4 linked regions of the Homo sapiens genome follow. The protein of the gene in region 1 purifies or fractionates together with the protein of each later gene. This does not show direct contact. Each region holds a gene or a part of one and is shown in the gene's direction. Other genes may lie near its edges.

Region 1 (6,898 bases):
GCCTGACCCAGAGTAATCTTTTTAAAACCAAAATCAAAGCATGTCAGCCTCCTGTTTGAACCTTGTGTTAGTCTTTTTTTTTTTTTTTTTTAAGACGGAGTCTTGCTCTGTTGCCCAGGCTGGAGTGCAGTGGCATGATCTTGGCTCACTGCAACTTCTGCCTCCTGGGTTCAAGCAACTCTCTTCTCAGCCTCCCGAGTAGCTGGGATTACAGGCATCTGCCACCACGCCTGGCTAATTTTTTTGTATTTTTAGTAGAGATGGGGTTTCACCATGTTGGCCAGGCTGGTCTCAAACTCCTGACCTCATGATCCACCCACCTTCACCTCCTAAAGTGCTGGAATTACAGGCGTGAGCCACCGCGCCCGTCCGTGTTAGTCCATTTTGTGTTGCTATAAAGAAATACCTGAGACTGGGTAATTGATAAAGAAAAGAGGCTTAATTATTAATTAGCTCATGTTTCTGTAGGCTGTACAGGAGGCATAGCACTGGCATCTGTTCCTGGGGAGGCTTCAGGAAGCTTCCAGTCATGGCGGAAGGCATAGTGGGAGCAGGTGCATCTCATACTGAGAGCGGGGATAAGAATAGGCGGGGAGGTGCCACGCACTCTTAAACAACCAGACCTTGTGTGAACTCAGAGCAAGAACTCACTCATTGCCAAGGAGTAGCACTAAGCCATTCATGAGGGATCTGTCCCTATGATCAAAACAGCCCCCCACCAGGCCCCGCCTCCAACAGTGGGGATTACATTTCAACATGAGATTTGGAGGGGACACACATCCAAACCATATCAAACCTCTTCAGCAGTTTCTACCGCACTAGGAGTAAATTTCAAACTCCTCTGTATAACCGAGAAGCCCCTGCATCATCTGGCTCTTGCCTCCCCTTCCAGCCCTGTGTGACTCACTTTCCCCTGCTCACCATTCCAGGCCTCCTGGCCATTCTCAGCAGTACCAAGCTTTCTTCTGCCTCAGGACTTTGCACAGGCTTATGCCTCTGCCTGAAATACTCTCCTGTCCTTCCTCCTACCCCCATCTTTTGCTAAGATTGATTTTTCTCATCCTTGAGGTCCTAGCTTAAATGTCACTTCCCAAGAGAGATCTTTTTTGACCACCCAGTCTAAAATAATTTGTAATGACATAATTTGTAATTTTTGGGGTGCTTGTCTGTTTACTGGCCTCTTCTCTGTCCTTTTGTGTGAGTTGTTCACCTTGCATCCGTCAGAGCAGGCTAAGCTATGTGCAGTAACAAACAACTCCCACATCGTAGTGTCTTCAAACCATAAGGGCTTATTTCTCAGTCATTCTAAATGTCCATCACAGGTTGGTAGGGGGCCTGTGCTCATTGTAGAAACCCTGGCTGATGGAGCAGTCACATTTCCTAACATTCTCAGTAGCCATACCAAGGACAAGAGAGCTCTGGAGGGTCTTATATTGGCAATTAATTTCTCCAGCCTAGAAATGATTATGTGTCATTTCTGCTCACAAGTGATCGGTTAGAGCTAGTCACATGGCTCCACCCAACTACAGGGCTAGGAAGTTTCCAGTGCTCACAAGAGAGGAGTAGAAATGTTTGTCAGACAGCACTAAAGACTCCCACAGTAATCAATAAATACTTTAGAAGGATGGAGTGTCTAGAATGCTCTTTCCATGGCAGCAGTCGTTTACAGCATCCTTAAGGAGTCCTGCTGGGGATCTTGTATTTCTGCTGCTCAAGCCCCTGGCTCTGCTGGGAGTCAGAGTTCTGGTAGGGAAACTCAGCAGACAAGAGGTCCCCTGAGACCTGGAATGAGCCACCTTAGAGGCAGCTGAGGCTGGTGGCCTCTTGGTTCCCTTCTCCCGTTGGGACACGTTTCCCCTATTGGTGTCCTGTGTGAGACAGCCCCGCCAAAAGGGTCCTGCCACTCCTCTCTGAATATACTGCACAGCTCAGGGTCTGGCATGTCCAGGATCTGAATAGATGATCCTGCTGGAGGAGTCCCAGTAGGACCCCTCCGAGTTCTAGGCAGGCAGAGAATGAAAGCAGCATTTCTCAGAAAGCCCTGTGCATCCTGTTACCAATGCAAAGGAATGGCACTTCAGCACCCCAGAAAAGGTGGGGAAACCTCCTGCATCTGCTGTGGGTCCTAGGGGATGGGGGGCAGGTGGGAACAGTAGAATCCTGGCCTGTGGCCTGATTTCTGACCCTGTTCCCTCAACTATCATACCCTTTTCACTTGGGTAGGCTGCTGCAGCTGCTCTCCTCTCTATACTTGCATTTGACAAAGGGTACCACCACAGCAGGCCCTTTCCACCAGGCTGCACGCGGTCACACTTGATACAGATGGGCTTTGGGAGATAAGGCTGTACCAGATTGGTGATCACACACTTGACTGTACATCGTGGCCTCTGGTGGCAATCACTAATGTAAGCTCACATTCCTGAGGCACTCACCAAGTTCCTAGCACTGTACTGAGAGCTCTATGTGGACTTGCATGTACATCTTCTTACCTATAGCATGGAGGTGCTGCTATTGGGCAGCTGGTGAAACTAAAGCCCACAGAAGTAGTTTCCTAATTAAGTAACTGCTAGTCACAAGGTAGAGCCCTCCTTTAATCCTATGCTTCCAGACTCCAAACCTGTGCACTTAACTGTTACTCCGTAAGAAAAGGTTTGGGTCTGATTCCTCTTCTAGGTTATAAATACTAGGGAGCTTCCTCTTTGAGAAGCCTCCTACCCCATCTCCTTACTGTACCTAGCAAAGTGTCTGTCATACGATTAGCACTCAATAAAAGTTTTAAATGTGAATGAGAATGGTAAAAACAGAATACTTAGTAGGCTAACACTAGGATATTCTTCTGATTGCACTTTTTTGTTAAGTTGGTCACTTAAGACTAAGGTAAAGCTTCTGTGCTTTTTGATATAGATGCTGATGGAGGGACTGGATCTGGTAGATACATAGCAATCTAATCATGGCCCAAAGCCTCCAATATAGTATACACATGCATCCTAACTTACAATGATCAACAATGAAAGAATTAATTACACTGTGCTAGCAGCCATGGATATCACATTGCATAAGAGATAGTTCCCTCCCTTAGAGATAAGAGGCAGACGTTTAAACTGTCAGTTGCGATGGCTTGTGACTCTCATGAGGTCTGCGTAGGGGTCAGCACGGTCACAAAACCTGTGGAGGAGGAGGTGGTTAGGAAGGAAAATCCACCGAGATGAAGCTGTACTGGATACAAAATCACACGTTCCTGGGCTTTGGCAGGGAGCTTGCCCACTGCACTTCCTGCCTCGAGGCTATGGCTGGGGTGGGATTCTGGCCCTTGTAGGCGGCCTGGGTCCAGTCTCCGCCATGCACTCACTAACTCCATTACTGCTAATGGGATGTCATCAGCGAAGCGAGTGGTGGCGGCAGGTGGAGTCCCGCCCCAAGACCCCCGGGCGGCATCCCCATCGCCGCGCTCCAGCACTCTTCGCCACCTCGTAATTTTCTTCTGTTTCTGTATGATCAGGTCTGTCCTTCGCTTTTGCTTTCCATTACTTCGTCCTAGCCCTGGCCTGAATCCCACAACTGGCGCCCCACCTTGTGCACCCGCACCCGCCCTCAATACCGGCGGGCAGCTCCTCCACTGCCGCAGGGTTACCAGCTGCGTGTCCGAGGGGCAGAGAGAGAAACAGAGGGGGACGGGGCAGGCGCGCTGGGCCCGCCCCCCCGTGCCTGGGGCAGCTTCTCATTGGTGAAACCTCCTCCCCGGCCGCCCGCTGCTTGGAAAATCAGCCTCGGATTGGCTGACAGCCCCCCGACGGGCGTGGCTTCCGAGGAGAGGGCAAGAACGGAAGCGAGGGCGCGCTCTCGAGAGGAGGGGTTGCCTAGGCGACGCCGGAGGCGCGCTCGGGGGGTGGGAAAGCGAGCCCGGCAGCTCAATGACAAATCGGTGGAGGACGGCTGGGGTCCGGCCCCGGGAGGGGGCGGGGCGCGTTTAAGAGCTGCGGGCCGGGTGCGGACGGCGGAGGCGGCGGGACTGGTCCCTGGTAAGGGCGCGGCGCCCGCGGGCCCCGGGCGGGGTGGGGCGCGGGCTGGGGAGTGGGGTACGCCGCACGCCCGCAGCCTCTTGCTCCCTCCGTGCCGGGCTGTGGCCGGGCGGCGGCAGGACATGTCGCGCCCCGAGGCCGGCGGAGGGCGACGCCCCGGCAGCGGCCCCGCTCCGCTCCGGGAGGACTCCCTGGGGGAGTCTCGGCTTCCTGGGCTGCCTGGGGCTGAGGAAGTGGGGGCGGCCTCCGCCTCTCCCTTGTAGCCGCGGTTCCTTCCCTATCCCGCAGATGGCTCTGCTTCCACTTCCTGCCGCGGGCCTCCCGCTCGGGACCGTCCACTTCCTCAGTCCTCCGGCCGCGGCTTGGGCAGGGTCAGGGCTGGGAAGTGTTGCAAAAACTTAACTGCCCTCGGAACTTGCACGCGCCGTGAACTGGGCGGTGTTCCTAAAGGGCTTCGGTTTGCTGGTTTTGTTTTGGTCCTGTCTTGCAAATGAGCATAAAGTTGTTTCTCCCCCAGCCTCCTCCCCTTTCCTTTCTGATAGGGGCCAGCGGCGAAGGGGCTTCTAAGGGGAAGCGCCTGGACTGGGCATCGCCGTCCCGGTTCTTGCCGCCTGTGGGAGTGTGAGGTTAACCGTGCTCGGTGCAGGGTTGCGGGGCGCGGAGCTTGCTGCGTCCACACTGCTTGTGTGAGCAGTGTCCTCTCTGTGCTCATTTCCAACGAGAAACGTTGGAACTTTGGTGTTCTTATCAGGTGAGTCTTCGGGAGAGAAGTGCTTGTGCCTGGCGGACTGAATGAATTGGCCGTGGAAGAGACTTGGCTGATTGCTCATCTGGGTTACCTGTGACTCATCTTCAGCCCTTGTAGAACAGTGCACTTTCTGCTCTGTCCTGGTTTCCTAACCTCATTTCTTCTGAAGTTTTGGGGATGGATGGTGGGCATGGAGTATCAGAGGGGATAGTGAATCTTTTAGAGGTGTCAATGACTGATGTTCCAAGCAGAGCCATAAGATTGTTGGATGTCAAAGCTCAGAACCGGTCAAGGCTCAGAATGCTCCTTAAACCTGGAGCAATAGAAGCACAGTATCGAAGTTCCCAGAAATGGGCCGACCATGAAAGGTAGCACTGCATATTGGGAAAAACAGGAGGGGTGAGTTTGAAGACCTGGGTTTGATGCAGGTTCTGAGAGTTTACCGGTGTTGTGATGTGGAGCACGATCTTTCCCCCTCTGAGCTCCAGAGTCAGCAACTGTAGAAGGGTGATGATAGTTATCCTAATTGTTAGGATTAAACGAAATAGGAGCGGGGGAGAAGAAGGCCAGGGAGACATATCCTTTGTGCGTGGCTTTAGTTGTCAGCCGGTCTGCTTTATTCTGACCACATCTGGGGCTTTCCTTCCTTGCCCATTCACATTGCTTCCCATTGGAAACAGCACTCTTATCGGAGATCTCAGCCAGATTTCCCTCTGCCCGAGGAATAGAACATTTTCCCAGGATTGTGTGTGGAAAATAGTGTAAGTTATTAGATATCTTTTGGGAACTTGGGACCTAGACCATAAGGATAAACAGGATTTAGAGTCTTCCACGGCATATGAAGAGATTTTGGTAGAAGATGAGGGTAGAAAAGTTCTAAATTCTTGCCTTGACTGAAGATGGCTTGAGATTCCATGAAAAATTTTAAGCCTGAGAATTGAGATAATCCTTTTTTTGTTTGTTTTTGGGGGCAGAGTCTTGCGCTATTTCCCAGGCTGGAGTGGAGTGGTGTGATCACCGCTCACTGCAGCCCCCACCTCCCAGGCTCAGGTGAGTCTCCCACCTCAGCCTCCCGAGTAGCTTGGTACAGTCTTGCACCACCATGCCAAGCTAATTTTTGTATTTTTTGTAGAGATGGGGTTTCACCATGTTGCCCAGGCTGGTCTCGAACTGCTGGGCTCAAGCCATCCTACCACCTTGGCCTCTCAAAGTGCTGGGGATCACAGGTGTGAGCCACCCCGTCTGGCAGGGATAATTCTTTCTTCCAAATCACGTAATCCTACTATGCCTCTTTGCATTTAGTTGCTAAATTCTTACCCCCCTCATGTAACTTATGGAAGTTAGAAACATCATTAGAGACCTTTCTTGAAAGCTAAATTTGGAGACAATGTAAGACTAGAGTGCGAAGAGATCTAGGTGAACTCTGTAGTTTTCCAGTGTAACTTGTCTCCAGATGGTATACAGGAGTCCCACTTTTCCTTGGCTCCAGTTACTGCTAAACAGCCCCTGCTCTAGACATGCAAGACGCTTGGTTTTTTTTTCGTTTTGTTTTTTTAAATGAATGTATGTTCTGAATGTTATCGCAAAGAGAGCCGAGCACAGAGGAAAAGGAACTCTTCCTTCATCACATGGCGGAGTAGTTAAGGAGGAGAAAAACTAACAGTTACTGAGCATCAGCTGTCTGCTTGGCACAGACCACTGATCCAAGCCATACCAGTTAAATATGTGGCCTTGGAGATTTGACCATGGGCTGTCTCCTTTAGCTCCTCAGTTCTTTTGGTACCTAGGAATATAAATATTGGTGTATGTGTACATATATTCTTAGATATTCCAAAAAGCAGAGGGGCCAGTAGGCAAGAGGGTTGATGAGTCTTGGATAGGTGACAGTGGAAAGAAAGATGAAGAGGATGTGGAAGTGAGTGTCAAAGAGGGACGGTATATGTGCTTACTAGAAGCAATTGCAAAATTCTAGCCAGGTCTCAATTTCAAGTTTGTCACTTTAAAAAAAGTAGCTGCTTATAATTTTCCTTAGTGTTCTCCTGGCTGTTTTTGTTTTTGGTGATGGTGGCTAGTTGTTTTTTAGTTGAAATCTAAATGCAGAAAAGAAAAATGCCATTAATTGATAATTACC
Region 2 (7,041 bases), on another chromosome or scaffold:
TGTGAAAAGGACCCCTTTATTGTCAGTATCACTGATGGCTTCCTATAAGTACATCTGTTAGGAAAAAGAACTTTCAGTAGTTAATGGAAATTAGAATGCAACTGTCGGCCAGGCACAGTGGCTGACACCTGTAATCCCAGCACTTTGGGAGGCCCAGGCAGGTGAATCACGAGGTCAAGAGATTGAGACCATCCTGGCCAACATGGTGAAACCTTGTCTCTACTAAAAAATACAAAATTAGTTGGCATGGTGGGACCTGTAGTCCCAGCTACTCAGGAGGCTGAGACAGGGGAATCACTTGAACCCAGGAGGCAGAGGTTGCAGTGAGTCGAGATCGTGCCACTGCATTCCAGCCTTGCAACAGGGCGAGATACCATCTCAAAAAAGAGAAAAGAATGCAACCCTCTTTAAGCAAGTTGACATATCACAGCCTCTGGTTGAGAAAGCATGCGTTAAAGTTCTTGCCAAGCAGCCATGCTGGGAAATACAAGGTGTCATTAGAGAGTGGCCCCACTTTATTACCCTAAACTGCCTCCCAGAATTCTGGGAGCATTTCCCCCACTGGACTGTCCTATAGGATACCAGCTCTTCCTTTGCACTAGCCCCAAAGTCTCAAAGGGAAATTCTACTGTAAAAACAAAAAACTAGCACCTCTTTACTATAAGACATAGTTGACTGTGGAATCTGGAATGCTCTGTGAAGGGTACTCTCTGACATCCCCTAAAACCAGTGTGTTCACCAAGGGACTCCCATACCACTGAGGCCTATCCTCAGTCCCTGGCTGATGCTGGCACACTACCTCTCTGGCCACATACCTGTCTTGCAGAAATGCCCCAGTGATGACTGCCAGACTCACCTCTGCTAGTAGAAATGGGCCTAAGTCTCTCTGTGGACTGTATCCGTGAAATTTCTTTGCTACCACTCATCCATACCAGCTGATACCTCACAAGGAGCTGATACCTCATTAGCTAACTACAGCTAAGGCTCCTCATCTGGACTCAGCCCTGGATGGTTTCACAGAATCCATGAATCCTAAAAATTGTGTGCAATATTCTGTGTGTTTATGTCTGGAGAAAGTTTACTTAACTTTTGTAAGAGGTAGGATGATCAGGTCAGTGTCACTCACTCTTTGCTCTAACAAGGCAACTAGCCCTCCTCCTGGATGGTTTACGTTTTCCTCCCCAGACAGGCATGTGGGAAAAAGACTCTGTTCTCAGCAGTCTCTACCACAGCTGCCCAGGGGCTGGCAGGAGCTCTGGTCTTCTCCAGGTTCTTAGCACCAAGCACTTAGAGCTCTCAGAACAATTCCAAGGCCAGAGTAGGATGTGGCCAGAGGAGCTGCCCAGCCTCAGCCTGATCAGATGAAGCAAGTGCTTCCTTACAGAGGTGGCTGAAGACCCTGTTCTCCACGGTGGGGGGTGCCATGTGGCCCTGGCCACTTAACTCAGTTCTCTTTGCTTTATTTGTTTGTTTGCGACGGAGTCTCACTCTGTTGCCCAGGCTGGAGTGAAGTGGTGCAATCTCGGCTGACTGCAGCCTCCGCCTCCCAGGCTCAAGAAAGTCTCTTGCCTCAGCCTCCTGGGTAGCTGGGACTACAGGCACCTGCCACCATGCCCGGCTAATTTTTGTATTTATAGTAGAGATGGGGTTTCACCATGTTGGTCAGGCTGGTATCGAACTCCTGACCTCAGGTGATCCACCCACCTCAGCCTCCCAAATTGCTGAGATTACAGGCGTGAGCCACCATACCTGGCCAACTCAGTTCTCTTTGCTAATGGTGCTAAGGAAGCCATATAGTTTAGTTGCTAAAATCCAGTGGTTTGTTCTGGAGTCAAACCACCTCAGTCTGGCTCCCATCCCTGTTATTTATAAGCTGTGTGACTTCGGGGAGTCATCAGCCTCTCTGGGCTTCAGTGCCCTTATCTGTAAAGTAGGGGATAAAACAGGCACTTAATTCACTGCAGTGTTGTGAAGATGAAACAGCATAGGCCTTCTAAAATGATGAACACAGTGCTTAGCACAGAAGGAGTGCTTGTGAATGCTAACATCACTGTTGCTATTACTGTTTGTCTCCTTTGATCCACTGCTCTCCCTTTGATCTGCAGGTGGCAGCTTTGGCTATCGCAAGTGGCAATGGCTTGTTACTCAAAGGAGGGAAGGAGGCTGCACACAGCAACCGGATTCTCCACCTCCTGACCCAGGAGGCTCTCTCAATCCATGGAGTCAAGGAGGCCGTGCAACTGGTAGGTCCCTGGGAATGCACCAAGTCAGGCCCAGAGGGGCCAGATCAGGTGTTTGGGAATTTAAAGCAAAACTTAGGCCACACAGAGCCAAGACACTACTACAAGCAGACTTGACACTCCAGCAGGCCTGTGAGCCTTCAGACTTTAGGCCATTCTGCAGAGCCAGATGGGTCCTCAGTGGCTTAGGAAGGCCCCTCCCTTACAGCTGCGTCTTGGCACTATTTATTTACAAGAATGTCAATTAGACCTTCATTCTTTGGGTCACAAGGCAGCAGGAGTACCAGAACTAGAGTGTGAGGCCTAGGTTCCTGTCATTGGCAGAGTGATCTAGGGTAAGTCAGATGAGAAACTTTACAAAAGTTTGTCATAAACTGTCATGCGGTGTGTTGAGTATGAGATCATGCTGTTATCACTATTATTATTAAGGTCATCACTTTAACTGACCATTTCTCATTCTCCTCAACTGTCAAATGAAGTTTGATAATAATAGCTACTACTTGTTGAGTACCTACTATGTGCAAGGCTCATTTTATCCGTTAACTCATTTGATCGTCACAGCAGTCCCATAAGGAAAATATCATTAATTATTAGACTCATTTTCTACATTGGGAAAAAACAGATTCAGAGGTAAAGTAATTCCCCAAGAGTCACATGGTGTGTGATAGAGTTTAGATTTGGACCTAGGCTGACTCCAGATCCTTTTTTTTCTTTGGCTCATTTGCTCCAACATTCCAGGATTCTGTTGGCTACTGGGAGGATGTCTACAAACCTGCTCATTACACACTCAGTGACCAGAATCTGGTTTTTTTCTTATGCCCACATAGTGGTTGGAAAGAGCGCAGATTTTAGGGATTCAAATCCCAGCCCCACCACTTCCTAGCTTACACAGGTGCCCTCCCTCCTTTTCTTCCTATTGATGTGTAACATACGTACAGTAAAGTATACAGATCCTGTGAACCACTCTGCGACTGTTCACACACACACATGTATAACCACCAGCCGTATCAAGATACAGAACAGTCCAACATCCTGGAGGGCCCCCTTGTGCCCTTCCCAGTCAATATGTAGCCCCCTTCCCCACAAACTACTTTTTTGACTTCTGTCACATTAAATTACTTTTGCCTTTTTTTTTTTTTTTGAGACATGGTCTTGCTCTGTTGCCCAGACTGGAATTCAGTGGCACAATCTTGGCTCTCGGCTCACTGCAGCCTCAGCCTCCTAGGCTCAAGCAGTCCACCCACCTCAGCTTTCCTAGTAGTTGGGACTACAGGTGTGTGCCTCCAGACCTGACTAACTTTTGTGGATTTTTTGTTTTTTGTAGAGACAGGGTTTCACCATGTTGCCCAGGCTGCTCTCAAACTCCTGAGCTCAGGCAATCTGCCTGCCTCAGCCTCCCAAAGTGCTGGGAATGTGCCACCACGCCCTGCCTTTTGCCTATTCTTGAAATTTATATAAATGAGATCAAACAAAACACACGTTTATGTTGCCTGTCATTTGTTCGTTATGTCTGTGGCATTCATTCCCATTGTTGCATCTAGCAGTAGTTTTCTCATTTAATTGCTGGGTAGTGTTCCATTTACCTGCATATACTACAGTTCATCTTTTCTTCTCTTGATGAATATTTAGATTGTTTCCAGTTTTGGGCTATGTGGAATAAAGTTGCTGTGAACATTCTGGCACACATATATATTTGTTATAAAAGTAATATGACCATGTGGAGAAAAATTAAAAATCAAGAGAAAACAAAATGCCCATAATCTCAGTATCCTCTCACAGGCTCTTTAAGTCATTCTAATCCACATCCCAGGGTAGAAGTTGCCATCAGAAGTCATGAGAACCATGACTCCCTAGCAAGACCAACCCAACATTTCCTCAATGCTGTGAATAGAAAACCAACAGAGAAGCCACTCCCTTTTGTGATCTTCATGGCCTGGAGTAGTGTACTGCATTTAACCTCCATAGATACCCCTTTGTGCTGCTTCTGGCATTTTAAAAATTGTCTGCCCTGTATTATGGCTAGCAGTACCCTAGTGCTGCCTTCCCTACTTGATGCTGAGCTCTTTGACGGCATGCAGTGTCCTGCGTGATATGTGATGTGGAGCACAGCACCGAGTATATAGTGTTTGATAAGCATTTGCTGGACAACTTTTTGATTCCCATGATCGGGAACTTAATTTTGTTTTTAGAATAAGTTTTCACAGTGTCTCACTTAGTTCTCAGAGTGTACAGATGTTTATCTGTAAAAGGGAAGCTGCTGTTTTTATATTTTGTGTGGTCAGATGTCATCTTTATCTTTTTCTTCTTTCCTTCTAAAGGTGAATACCAGAGAAGAAGTTGAAGATCTTTGCCGCCTAGACAAAATGATAGATCTGATCATTCCACGTGGCTCTTCCCAGCTGGTCAGAGACATCCAGAAAGCTGCTAAGGGGATTCCAGTGATGGGGCACAGCGAAGGGATCTGTCACATGTATGTGGATTCCGAGGCCAGTGTTGATAAGGTCACCAGGCTAGGTGAGCTGGATGGGGTCTTCTCTTTCACAACGGAGAAATATTACATCCTCTGCAGCTCTGGATCATGTCAATGGAAACAATTCTTTGCTCATCTTCTTTCAGTCAGAGACTCTAAATGTGAATATCCAGCTGCCTGTAATGCTTTGGAGACTTTGTTAATCCACCGGGATCTGCTCAGGACACCATTATTTGACCAGATCATTGATATGCTGAGAGTGGAACAGGTAAGAGTTCCATAGGACTAGTACATTACTTCCTGTCTTAGAAGCCTGTGGAATTAGACCAGGCACAGCCATACCATATAAGGCAGTTTAAGAAACAATATTTTTTAATATCTTCTGTGTACAAAGTTCCATGCTAAGTAAAGTGTGAGTAAAACACAACCCCTGCCCTCTAGTAGTCGAACCAAACCAATACACAAATAGCTTTATTACAAAGTGGAATGTGTTGTGTGCTAAAGAGGGTTCAAAGGTAAGACAGACCACATGGCACTATGCTGACTGAACTGTTTCTGGCAACCTTATATATGCAAGGTGTTCCCAAGCATATATTATTTTTTGGATTTGATTTGAAAAGATGGTGCAGAAACGTTTCAAACCAAAAACTTATGTACATTCACTGCCTCCCCCCAGTGTCTTTGGTTACCAATATTAGTGTACTTAATGCAGTGATATTTGGGATTCAGTAATTTGTAGAATGTCTCCCTGGATTATGTTTTTACTATATTGTTAAGGTTGTAAACAAACCAAAAGCCAGTAAGTTTCAAATATAAAGTTGTGCTGTGTCCTAAATTCATGCCTGCAAGAAAATATAATAGATGCCCTCAAGGCAAAAATGGACAATCTGTTAAACTCTCTGCATGGATGCATTTTAAGCTTTAATTTCTGATGTCATAGTACACTTTCAGAGTTATATAAACCAGCATGGCAGTAGAGAAGGTGCTTGTTGGCCTTGGTTGCTTTGACTCTGAACATATGTCTCTTCCCTTCCATCCTTTGACTGGAAAGGAAGGCTCCAGTTAGCTTATAAATGTGGCATGGTCCCAGTGAGAACTGGAAAGAATTGTTTTAAAAATGAAACTGTACTCCATGGATTACAAGGAAGTTAGATCACATGGTCATTCATGTTCGGGGACCTTACTTTACTTTGGTAAGGAAGCCTGTTGATTGGGCACCTGTGTTTGCCAAGCACCACAGTGAACTGGATTAGACAGGAGGAAAGCTCTCCTTTAGCCAGGACTAAATCCCTCCCCAGACCTAATTTGAACACACAAGTGGTATCCTCAGTCATTAAAATGAGGATGGCCTTGAAATTCCAAATCAAAATGAGTCACTGTGTGTACTTCATACAGCACTTTTGGATGGCAGAAAGTAAAGCTAGAAGGATGACTTGCACAGGGATGGGGTTCCAGTCCCCAAGGAACACAGAAGAAGTGAGATCCCAGATAAGAAACAATGGCAGGGCCTCGGGAATCATGAGGATAAGGCAGACACCACTTATAACTTGAGCCAAGGCAAAAGCTTGATCCCAAAGAATCAAGGCATGAACCCTGTCCTGGGGATGTCTCAGAAAACAAGGTTTAAGTGGGATCCAGCTTGTGATTGGGATCCTCGGTGACCAGCCTCAGAATCCTTAAATTCCTCTAACCAGCAGCAGGATTAGAGCCAGAGCCTGGGGCTGAGCTGAACCTAGAGGTGGGGCCAGACTGACGCAGTTGGAAATCAAATGAGTAGCCACAGTTTCAGGTGCTGAAAGCACCTGACCAAGTACTGCTTACCTCTAAAGCAAACCTGGGACTTCGCTAGGGTACAGGGAGTAGCAATGTATATGTGGCACCTCCCTTTTTCCACACGAGTCTAGTGCCTAGGTACCATATGCAGGAACTGGGATCTTTATTGTCAAGTATTCATTTTAGGAAAATGCCAGAAGTCAAGCCCTTGTGTTGATAACCCACTAAACGCCTTGCACATTCTTTTTTATTCTTTTTTTTTTCTTTGAGACGGAGTCTTGCTCTGTGCCCCAGGCTGGAGTGCAGTGGCACAATCTTGGCTCACTGCAACCTCTGCCTTCCAGGTTCAAGCAGTTCTCCTCCTGCTTGAACCTCCCAAGTAGCTGAGATTACAGGCACCTGCCACCATGCCCTGCTAATTTTTTTAGTAAAGACGGGGTTTCACCATGTTGGCCAGGTTGGTTTTTGAACTCCTGACCTCAAGTTATCCACCCGTCTCAGCCTCCCAAAGTACTGGGATTACAGGCGTGAGCCACCATGCCCGGCCCACCTTGCACA
Region 3 (3,514 bases), on another chromosome or scaffold:
TTATGCCTAAAGGATACGTGAAGGCAGGGGAGTTTGGTGGTGCCAGATTCAGCTAAAGGGCAAGTCCAGGTTAATTATACTTTATATGTAAGGTACCCTTTGGATGTAAAACTGATCAGTAGGTTCCTCTGAAAATGTTTGATAATTAGAGTAAGCTATATTCATATTTACTCTTAGAGCTTTTTGTTTACCTTCACCAGTCAGTCCAAATTGTAAGACATTTTAAATTAGCTCCTCCAGATCTTTGACTAGATTAAGAGAACTCTTTCTGGAGCCAGGTGTTGATATGTCTAATGTGGTTCTCATCATGTGGAATCTGATCCGTGAGCACTTAGGTTTGTAAAGCCAGTGATCCCTGCCGACGTTCACATCAGGGAGTGTTTCTTAACTTGTCTGCCCTCCACTCTGCCCCCCCCGCTGCCTGTTCTCCACACAGCAGCTGGAAAAGATGCCTTTTGACACCTGCTGTTGAATCTCCATCACATTTGGAATAAAATCCAAACTCTCCCCAGTGGTCCATAAGGCCCCTGCCTACCTCTCCAGACTTATTTCATATCACACTTGCCCATACAAACTCTGCTTCTGCCACACCAGCATCTCTGCTTAGCACAAACAGCCACACCTTTTCCTACCAAAGGACCTTAGCACTAACTACTCTGGCTGGATGGAATGTCTTTCCCAGATTTTCGCACAGATTTCTTGTCATTCAAACTCAACTGGAGTATCACCTCCATAGAGATCCTTTCTTAACCATCTAACTCCCCAGTTAGTTTATATTGTGTCAAATATTATTTCTACTGTACACCTGATAAATATCTTATTACTTGTTTATTCATTTATTAATTTGCTTATTATTTGCTTTTCCTGAAAGTGGGAGGTGAATTTGTTCAGTGCTGTTTTCCCAGTGTTTGACATGATAGTTACTCAGAAAAAATGAATGAAAGGAACTTAGGTTGGTAGGAAGGAAAGGAACAAGTAAGTTGGAAGGAAGAAGGGAGGAACACAGGTTAATAGGAAAGAGGGAAAAGGACAGTTGGTAGGGATAATGATGAGAACAATAGGTTGGTTGGTAGGAAAGTTGGTTGATAGTAAGAAAAGTTGGTTGGTGGGAAGGAGGATCAATGGGTGGGTGACGGTTGGTGGAAGGAAGGTTCTATATGCTACTACCTTACTGTTACTATTTAATACAGAATTTATTCTAAATACTGAGCTTAAAAATCTGTCACTTCCTTTATAATAATATATTATTGTATTTTGTTGTAGCTGATGAAGTTACTTGGATGGACCCATTGTGCATCTTTTACTGAAAACTGGCTCCCCATCATGTATCCTCCCGATTATTGCGTATTCTAAAATAGGAAACAAGACTTTAAATTTTAAAAAAGGAAGTTTTATAGTGAATGGGTATAAAAACAAATTTGTGGCATTTTTAGTCTAATGCATGTTTTCATCCACTATCCAGTACTGATTATTAAAATGACATGTATTTATCAGAGAATTCACTGACGTGTGGCTTAATACATGTAAATCTAGACCTCTGACATCATGGTGTTTTCTTAATGCCTCACATTGCTGGCACGGGGATGTGCCCTGCCTGCCAGCACCTAGGACTTCGAGTTGGGTTGCAGCTTATGACATGCATGATAGGTTTTGGAAGGTAACTTTTAACTGCAAACCTATAAAGTACTATTTTTTATTTTATAAATGAACAGGGTTTTAACGTGCTCAACTTTAATTTTTTTCAATTGTATGAAGGCCTTAAAAAAGCTACATTAAGCGTAGCTAAAATTATTTATTGGACTAAAAACTAACAGAACTTCATTTCCAGAATTTTTTTTTTTTTTTTTTTTTTTTGGCAAATGTTTACATTCAATTAAGGGGAAAAAGTAGAACCAGCACAAATGAGTGGCAGTTGCTGGAGCATAACTGCTTCAATAAATCTTCATCTTGGGGTAATTACAGGCAAGTCATTTTCACATCCTCTTGAGGTTCAGAGCATCAGAATGAACTCTATGAATACATGTGTAAGTGCCAGACAGCTGAATCTTTATCAGGTATTGTAAAGATACACATATGATATGTTTATTAAAATTGAAATAATGTAAAACACATGAATAAATTTGCAAAACCAAGATCACAGTACACCATATGCACTCTGGTACCTTAATTTTTTTTTATAAATAATAAAAGTGAATATTGAAGCTTCTTAAAGTTGGTCTTAATTTTTCATAAATAAAATTTGGGGTTATAACAGAAATAATACATTAAATACATAGACAAAAAAAGTTAAACATAAGATAATCTATTTTACAGTGTTTCTTATAGGCTTACAATTATTTGAATGTATTTCCAGTTCTTGTATGATTAACTTTTGTGCATATCTAACTTTTTATTATTTTTATCTTTGGCTACTGCACGTGCATCTCTCGTCATTCCTCCACCAAATAAACAGACAAAAGTAGTATTGAAAAGTTTACAGTCCCTTATCTAATGGCAAATTGTGTGTATGTATGATTTTTTTATCTTGTTCTCTTAAGATTTACTGCTGCTTAAAATTACTACCAGTAATCCTTAGTCACTCCCAACTGTTTCTGCTGTATCTCATGAAGTGTTAGAGCGTTTATGAGAAACATAAATACATGTATAAGCATATTGGTCACACCTTCTGGGCTAGCTAGGGTCCAAAGTCTATCCATGAAAGCTACATGCATGTTCTCTCTCACACACTCATGGACTTTCACCTGCACACACATACAGGTCCCCATTTGTATAGGTTTAGTCCAGTAAGAGAATGGAGAAGCTCAGTAAAGGTAGGATGACTTCCCAAGGTTATACGGCTGATCAACTGTTGGAAATTAATTACAGACCTTGCTTTACAACCCAGGTTTTGCTATTTCAGGTAAGTACTACCTACAGCAGGAATCAGTAACGTTTGGCCCTTTAACCCAAACTGGACTGCTGCCTGTTTTTGTAAATAAAGTTTTATTGGAACAGAGCCATGCCTATTCATTTGTGACTCCTGTAACTGGAGGCAGTTATACAAAGCTGCCATGTTAGCTCCTGTTTCCTGTCTGGTTCATTCTGCATTTCTGTGGTGACAAGTGGACCCAAGTAAGCTCTAGAAGATGTTCTCAGTAAAATCATTACTGTTTCTATGTGATTACATTAAAAATAATACAAACAGTAGGATGGTACTTCAAAAAGTCAAGCAGTTTTCCTGTTTCTGGTCACAGTAGCCAATGTTTGCACACCCACTGAAAACAATTGAAAAAACTAGGTAAAAATAACTTTTTAAAGAACCATTAGAGACAGTACAGGGTATGTGCTCAATACTGGTTCTGTGGCCCCTTTCCAATAATAAGAGGCAGTTCTCAATTGTTACTGGGAGGAGTTTTGCCATCTCATGGGATTTCTTTCCTTCCTCATGTTAGCATGCTTTCTGGGAGAACTTCTCTTTACCGCAGAAGAGCCCCACCTGCTTCTCTTCTTAGGCACCACAAATCTCAAACCCTTT
Region 4 (5,953 bases), on another chromosome or scaffold:
CATTAGTTATTAAGATCACTGCAGCAGCTTATATAGTTTCATTGCATCAATTTCCCAAACAGTACTTTAGGCTTGATACCTACCCAGTACCTGCCAATGTTACAGAATAGTTTTAGTTATTATAATAGTTGTTCTTTTCATCAGTAACAAAAGGATATACAGTTCATCTGTCTGTACTCACATTTTGCTGAAAACAATATAAAAGAGCCTGAAAAGCACATAGTTCCTTTTTTCTTTTGTAATCCTAGCATTAATGTGTGCAGCTGTCCATGTGAAATACCAAAAATTAATTGAACATGAAAAATATTTTTAAACTAAAGATACAAGGAAACAAACACTTATTATATACATTTTTTATGACAGACATTTACACCCAACAGTTTTATGAAGGAGGTCCTATTATTACAGTTTTATAGATGAAGTTACTGTGGCCCAGATAATTTAAGTAACTTGCCCAAAGTTATACGGCTAGTATATAGGAGAATTGGGATTTGTACCCAGGTTTGTTTGATTCCAGTATGCACACCAGTTCTTTCCCCTACACAGTACTGTCTTATTAATTTTACCTTTGGAAAAATACAAAAGGATATATATTCTGTGGAATTATAGCTAAAGAGCATATTAAAAGTAGAACAAAAGAAAACTAATTTGAAGGTGAAAAACCATTCAGTGGAAATAACTAATCACAATGCCTGCTGCCAGTTTGGTAGATTCAGGTATTAAAACATGAAACCCCTGTACACTGGAGTCAACAAGTTCTTTGTGAACAGTTATTGATTTGACTGGGTAGGGGTGGGTAAGGGGGTTTTGAAATCTTTGAGTCAGTTGAATATTGTGAACTCTTCTTTCCCTGAAGAAGCCGAGGCAGTTGTTGAAACCAAAATGGAGAACAAACCCACCTCCTCAGAATTGCAGAAGATGCAAGAGAAACAGAAACTGATCAAAGAGCCAGGCTCGGGAGTGCCTGTTGTTCTCATTACAACCCTTCTGGTTATTCCGGTGGTTGTCCTGCTGGCCATTGCCATATTTATTCGGTGGAAAAAATCAAGGGCCTTTGGAGGCAAGTAAAATGAGCCCCGTGAACTTGGAACCTGCCTTTGAAAGAGTGTTTGGCCTAATTATCCTCAGGAGTTTGATTGGGATTTTTTTCACTGTATTTGTTTTTTTGTTTTTAATGCTCTCTACCATTTTTGACATTATTGTCTATGTTCCAAATATTGCCCCTAGTTAATATCACAGTACAAAATAGTATCTGGAGACTCTGAAATTTGGATAGTTAGATTAAAATATAACCTTTAATACTATCTTTTAGCAATTGGCTTAAGTCCAATTAATGAGTCCATACGAAATTGTAGGTAGTAGAGTCAGTATAAATTAGCTGAAGGATCAGAGGAGGAGATACCTGCTGTTAGGAAGAGGCCCAGTCCTCAAAGTACCTGGGTCAGTTTTTCAGGTTGTGTTTTTCTCCCATTAGGCTCCTAGCTACATGACCATGGGCAAGTTACTTAATCTCTCCAGACCAGTTTTCTCATAAAAAAGTGGGGATAAAATAGTTACCTTACAAGGTTGTACAAAGATGAAATAATGTACATAAGCATTTATCAGGATACCTGGAACCTAGGAAGTACTCAATACCACCAATGGTTATGATGAATAATCATTGGTAATAAAGTAACAAAAGGCATAAGAAGTTATAAAAAACACTTGTCTTAAACCTTAGTTTTCAAGAAAAATTAATTCTATAACAAACCATTTGATAGTTTTTGAATAGTCATAATTTAGCTCATCAGCCTTCCATAACTGAACAAGGCAGAGTCCAATACCAGAGTTAGTATTTTATGAAATCATTATCACAATATAGGATCCAAGAGCTGAGTTTATTTTAGGACATCTAAATAAATAAACAACCCAATTCATGTTTCTTACCGCTCAGTAGCAGTCCCTTGGCTGGGTCCCCAGGTCCTAGAGCAAGTCTATAGCTGTGTGTGGGAAGAAATCCATGGATCAGGGAGAGGGGGAGCATTTGATCAAGAAACAGCATCTGATCCTATTTCAGGTCAAGGCAGCCATGGCAGGGATTCAGTGCCCTTGGCAAAGCCCTGACACAGAAAAAGGCATGGAAACAGAAAACAGAAAATTCAGTTTAATATGTTGTAAAAGGGAATTTTTATTAGACTTTATTTTGCTTTTCATGTGCCATCAATAAATCTCTATAAAAATATAGTTAACTCTTCCCAAAAAGGATTTCTATTAAGTCCATGTTACAGATCTGGAACTGTCATAAGTAGGGGCAAAGAGAAATAAACATAGTCATTGTCTTCATGGTGTTATATAGATGCTTCAAAAGAGCAAGAATCCATATCTTGAGTACTGATATGTCCCCAGCACAAATAATAGTTTCTGATACTAGTGGTTTAATAAATTGTTGTTGAAAGAATGAATGAATAAATCAACCGAGCTCACAGAATAGATAACATATGAAAGAGACATGAAACAAAAAAGTTATAGTAGAGGGTGGTAAGTGCAGTGATAAATACACAGAGTAGTAGGAACAGTGGGGCCTAGGGGAAGGTGGCAGGAATTGTGGTAACCAACCCAATCTGGCAGAAGCAGTGGCTAGGGAATAAGGAAGATTTGGTCTCTCCTGTTTGTTGTTAAGCACATGTGACACAGCACTGTTACATGATGCTGACTTTACAGGAATGTGTTAGGAAGGTAGAGACCCAGGTAGAACCCTAGAAAATTGCCATTATTTGACCGTGTTTTACTTAGAAAAATTGCAGTTTCATATGTAGTAGTAGTAGATCAGCTTCTCACTTTTTTTCTGAATTTGTTCTTGATAGATCTTATCCAGTCTAAGGTTATTAAAAACCCTAATGGACCTTCCATTTATTCATCATTCCTTATTATGTATTGACTCCATATCAGACACTGTGCTAGGCACATGGGGATACAAAACTAAGGAATGTCCTTGCAGAACTTACAATCTAATTTGTTGGCTTTCTAACAGTCTTACCAGATTCTTCTTCCCTTCTTGCCTATTTCTTTCCACATCACTGTCTTCTCCCTTTCCTCTCATCTGCGCTATCTTTTTCCATGATGCTGACTTCAGTCCTGGTTAAAGACCTAACAGGACAACCCCAGGCCTGACTTTCCTGACCATAGCCCTTGAGGGAGTGATGAAGCCTGGGAAATAGTACAGGGAGAGACACAGCAAGGGAAAAAATGAAACCCATTGGGAGTTCTGTCTCCCCATAAGGAAAGAGAGTCTGTCCTTTATGGAGATAGGCAGTCCTGTTGGGAACATTTAGGTCACCTACTATGCTTGGAAAATACTCAGGGTGTCATGTGCTTTCCCTTCACTTATGTCTTACATAAAGAAGAAACGATATACATGGATCCAAAGCTTTCTCAAGCAAGATACGTACTGTCAGTAGAAAGAGTAAAGCTGAAGGCAAATATCCCTAAATTGTCATAACCAAAGATGGAAAAATTTTATAAATTATTAATAACATTTCCTGATTAAAAAAATAGCTATGATTTATTGAGCATTTACTGTATATCTATAGGTAGTGTTCTAAATGTGTCACATGCAGTGTCTGATCTCAGCCTTACAGACAGGGATTCTCCTTGACCTTTCTTTTGTCAGAGGAGAAAACTGAAGCTCAGAGAAGTAATTTATCAAGACTGCACAGCCAGTAAGAGACACGGGCAGGAGTCAAACCCAGCTTGGGCCCTTTATGTATGTCTCAGAAATATACCGCCTTTCTTAAAAATTAGAATTGCATACAGACAAGAGCCAGGCCTTGCTTTATCATTTACCAGTTCCTATTTTAAGTTGGAAGTTGAGTGCATGGGTTGAGAAAGATGACTGGGACTCATTTTGAAATGTGCCATCTTTTTTTAGCAGATTCTGAACACAAACTCGAGACGAGTTCAGGAAGAGTACTGGGAAGATTTAGAGGTATGCCTATGACCTTTTAGAACCCTTCATGTTTGGTTCAAAGTCAACAAGCACATGTCTTTTAAAAAGCAAGGAGATATTTCATATTTTGTCTCTGAAGATAAAGCACCTTGTATGCAGCTTAGCATCTCCCAGAGTAAATACAGAATGCACACCATAAACTAAACTGAAGTGCATGGGTCTGGCAGCAGATTTCCCAGTTTTATTTTTCCCATTCTGCATTATCTAATTCTCTTCCCCTGCCTTTTACCTGGCTTCATTTGTCTTCAGCAAATTTTCTGTCACTCCTGTTGGCATGTCAATGTTTGTCATAGTAAAGATGACCTTTTCTTAAAGTCATTGAAATGAGGAGCTGCTCCAGGGAGGCTAGTTCTGGATAGAGAGCTAGAGAAAAGCAGGAGGTGAAAGTGAATATGAAATATTCCTGCAGAAATACATAATACTTGGGAGCTTTTGTTTTTCTTCTTTAATAGTAGCATCTATATGGCTCTGTAGGATACGTCTCTGTCTGTTTTTCTATTTTATTTTTAAATAAAATAATCTCCCCTTTCCCATCCCCACCTTCTGACTTTATCATTTAAGAATTTACAAGGTAACAGACATTGCTGCAAACTTTACCCAATTCTGTTATTGTTTGCTTTTTTTCAGGAAAGGGAAGTGGAGGCTTAAACCTTGGTAATTTCTTTGCAAGCCGTAAGGGCTACAGTCGAAAAGGGTTTGACCGGCTTAGCACTGAGGGCAGTGACCAAGAGAAAGAGGATGATGGAAGTGAATCAGAAGAGGAGTATTCAGCACCTCTGCCTGCGCTCGCACCTTCCTCCTCCTGAAAACCAAGCTTTGATTTAGATTGAGTAAGATTTACCCAGAATGTCAGATTCCTTTCCCTTTAGCACGTTTAAAGTTCTGTGTATTTAATTGTAAACTGTACTAGTCTGTGTGGGACTGTACACACTTTATTTACTTCGTTTTGGTTAAGTTGGCTTCTGTTTCTAGTTGAGGAGTTTCCTAAAAGTTCATAACAGTGCCATTGTCTTTATATGAACATAGACTAGAGAAACCGTCCTCTTTTTCCATCATAATTCTAATCTAACAATGGAAGATTTGCCCATTTACACTTTTGAGACTTTTTGGTGGATGTAAATAACCCCATTCTTTGCTTGAACACAGTATTTTCCCAATAGCACTTTCATTGCCAGTGTCTTTCTTTGGTGCCTTTCCTGTTCAGCATTCTTAGCCTGTGGCAGTAAAGAGAAACTTTGTGCTACATGACGACAAAGCTGCTAAATCTCCTATTTTTTTAAAATCACTAACATTATATTGCAATGAAGGAAATAAAAAAGTCTCTATTTAAATTCTTTTTTAAATTTTCTTCAGTTGGTGTGTTTTTGGGATGTCTTATTTTTAGATGGTTACACTGTTAGAACACTATTTTCAGAATCTGAATGTAATTTGTGTAATAAAGTGTTTTCAGAGCATTAGCTGTCAGTGTATTTTCCAGTTTTTGCGTATTTGCAGATTTTACATACAACTTTTATAATAATTACACAAACCCACAAATATTAGTGAAACTTACTCGATGTCTTCAACTAAAAGAAATGTGTGTATTGTACAAAATTTAGAAGATACTTTAGCCAATATAAATTAAAAACCAGCCTGAGTTTACATAAATTTGTAAAGTCAGGCTCTTCTAAAATCCAAAGAGGGTTTTTGCCTATATATCAATCAGAGGATAAATACTTTAATAAAAGGTAATCACAGCTAAGTGGATACCTGTGTCTCAAATTACATATGCAAATGATCCATCAGTAGGGATCACTAATAATAGTTTTCCTTTTAAAAAATAATTTCAGGGCAGGTACAGTGGCTCAAGCCTATACTTCCAGGACTTTGGGAGGCCAAGCAGAAGGATTGTGGGAGGCCAAGCAGAAGGATTGTTTGAGCCCAGAAATTCAAGGCTGCAGTGAGCTATGATCAATCCACTGTACTCCA

The links.
Region 2: the proteins of RALB (region 1) and ALDH18A1 purify together in Homo sapiens (affinity purification with mass spectrometry; 2 studies listed by BioGRID and IntAct, with this or other methods). This does not show direct contact.
Region 3: the proteins of RALB (region 1) and TPP2 purify together in Homo sapiens (affinity purification with mass spectrometry; 2 studies listed by BioGRID and IntAct, with this or other methods). This does not show direct contact.
Region 4: the proteins of RALB (region 1) and PAM purify together in Homo sapiens (affinity purification with mass spectrometry; 2 studies listed by BioGRID and IntAct, with this or other methods). This does not show direct contact.

What each region holds. Positions count from the first base shown.
Region 1 is NC_000002.12:120,248,962-120,255,859, forward strand, and holds the start of RALB (ras-related protein Ral-B), read left to right. Parts: upstream 1-3,890; 5' UTR 3,891-4,019; intron 4,020-4,096; exon of another isoform or gene 4,097-4,770; intron 4,771-6,898. UniProt on the Homo sapiens protein: Multifunctional GTPase involved in a variety of cellular processes including gene expression, cell migration, cell proliferation, oncogenic transformation and membrane trafficking.
Region 2 is NC_000010.11:95,611,679-95,618,719, reverse strand, and holds part of ALDH18A1 (delta-1-pyrroline-5-carboxylate synthase), read left to right. Parts: intron 1-2,105; coding exon 2,106-2,243; intron 2,244-4,558; coding exon 4,559-4,754; intron 4,755-4,856; coding exon 4,857-4,978; intron 4,979-7,041. UniProt on the Homo sapiens protein: Bifunctional enzyme that converts glutamate to glutamate 5-semialdehyde, an intermediate in the biosynthesis of proline, ornithine and arginine.
Region 3 is NC_000013.11:102,676,964-102,680,477, forward strand, and holds the end of TPP2 (tripeptidyl-peptidase 2), read left to right. Parts: intron 1-1,263; coding exon 1,264-1,353; 3' UTR 1,354-2,995; downstream 2,996-3,514. UniProt on the Homo sapiens protein: Cytosolic tripeptidyl-peptidase that releases N-terminal tripeptides from polypeptides and is a component of the proteolytic cascade acting downstream of the 26S proteasome in the ubiquitin-proteasome pathway.
Region 4 is NC_000005.10:103,024,275-103,030,227, forward strand, and holds the end of PAM (peptidyl-glycine alpha-amidating monooxygenase isoform e preproprotein), read left to right. Parts: intron 1-856; coding exon 857-1,060; intron 1,061-3,907; coding exon of another isoform or gene 3,908-3,910; coding exon 3,911-3,964; intron 3,965-4,612; coding exon 4,613-4,791; 3' UTR 4,792-5,442; downstream 5,443-5,953. UniProt on the Homo sapiens protein: Bifunctional enzyme that catalyzes amidation of the C-terminus of proteins. Alpha-amidation is present at the C-terminus of many endocrine hormones and neuropeptides and is required for their activity.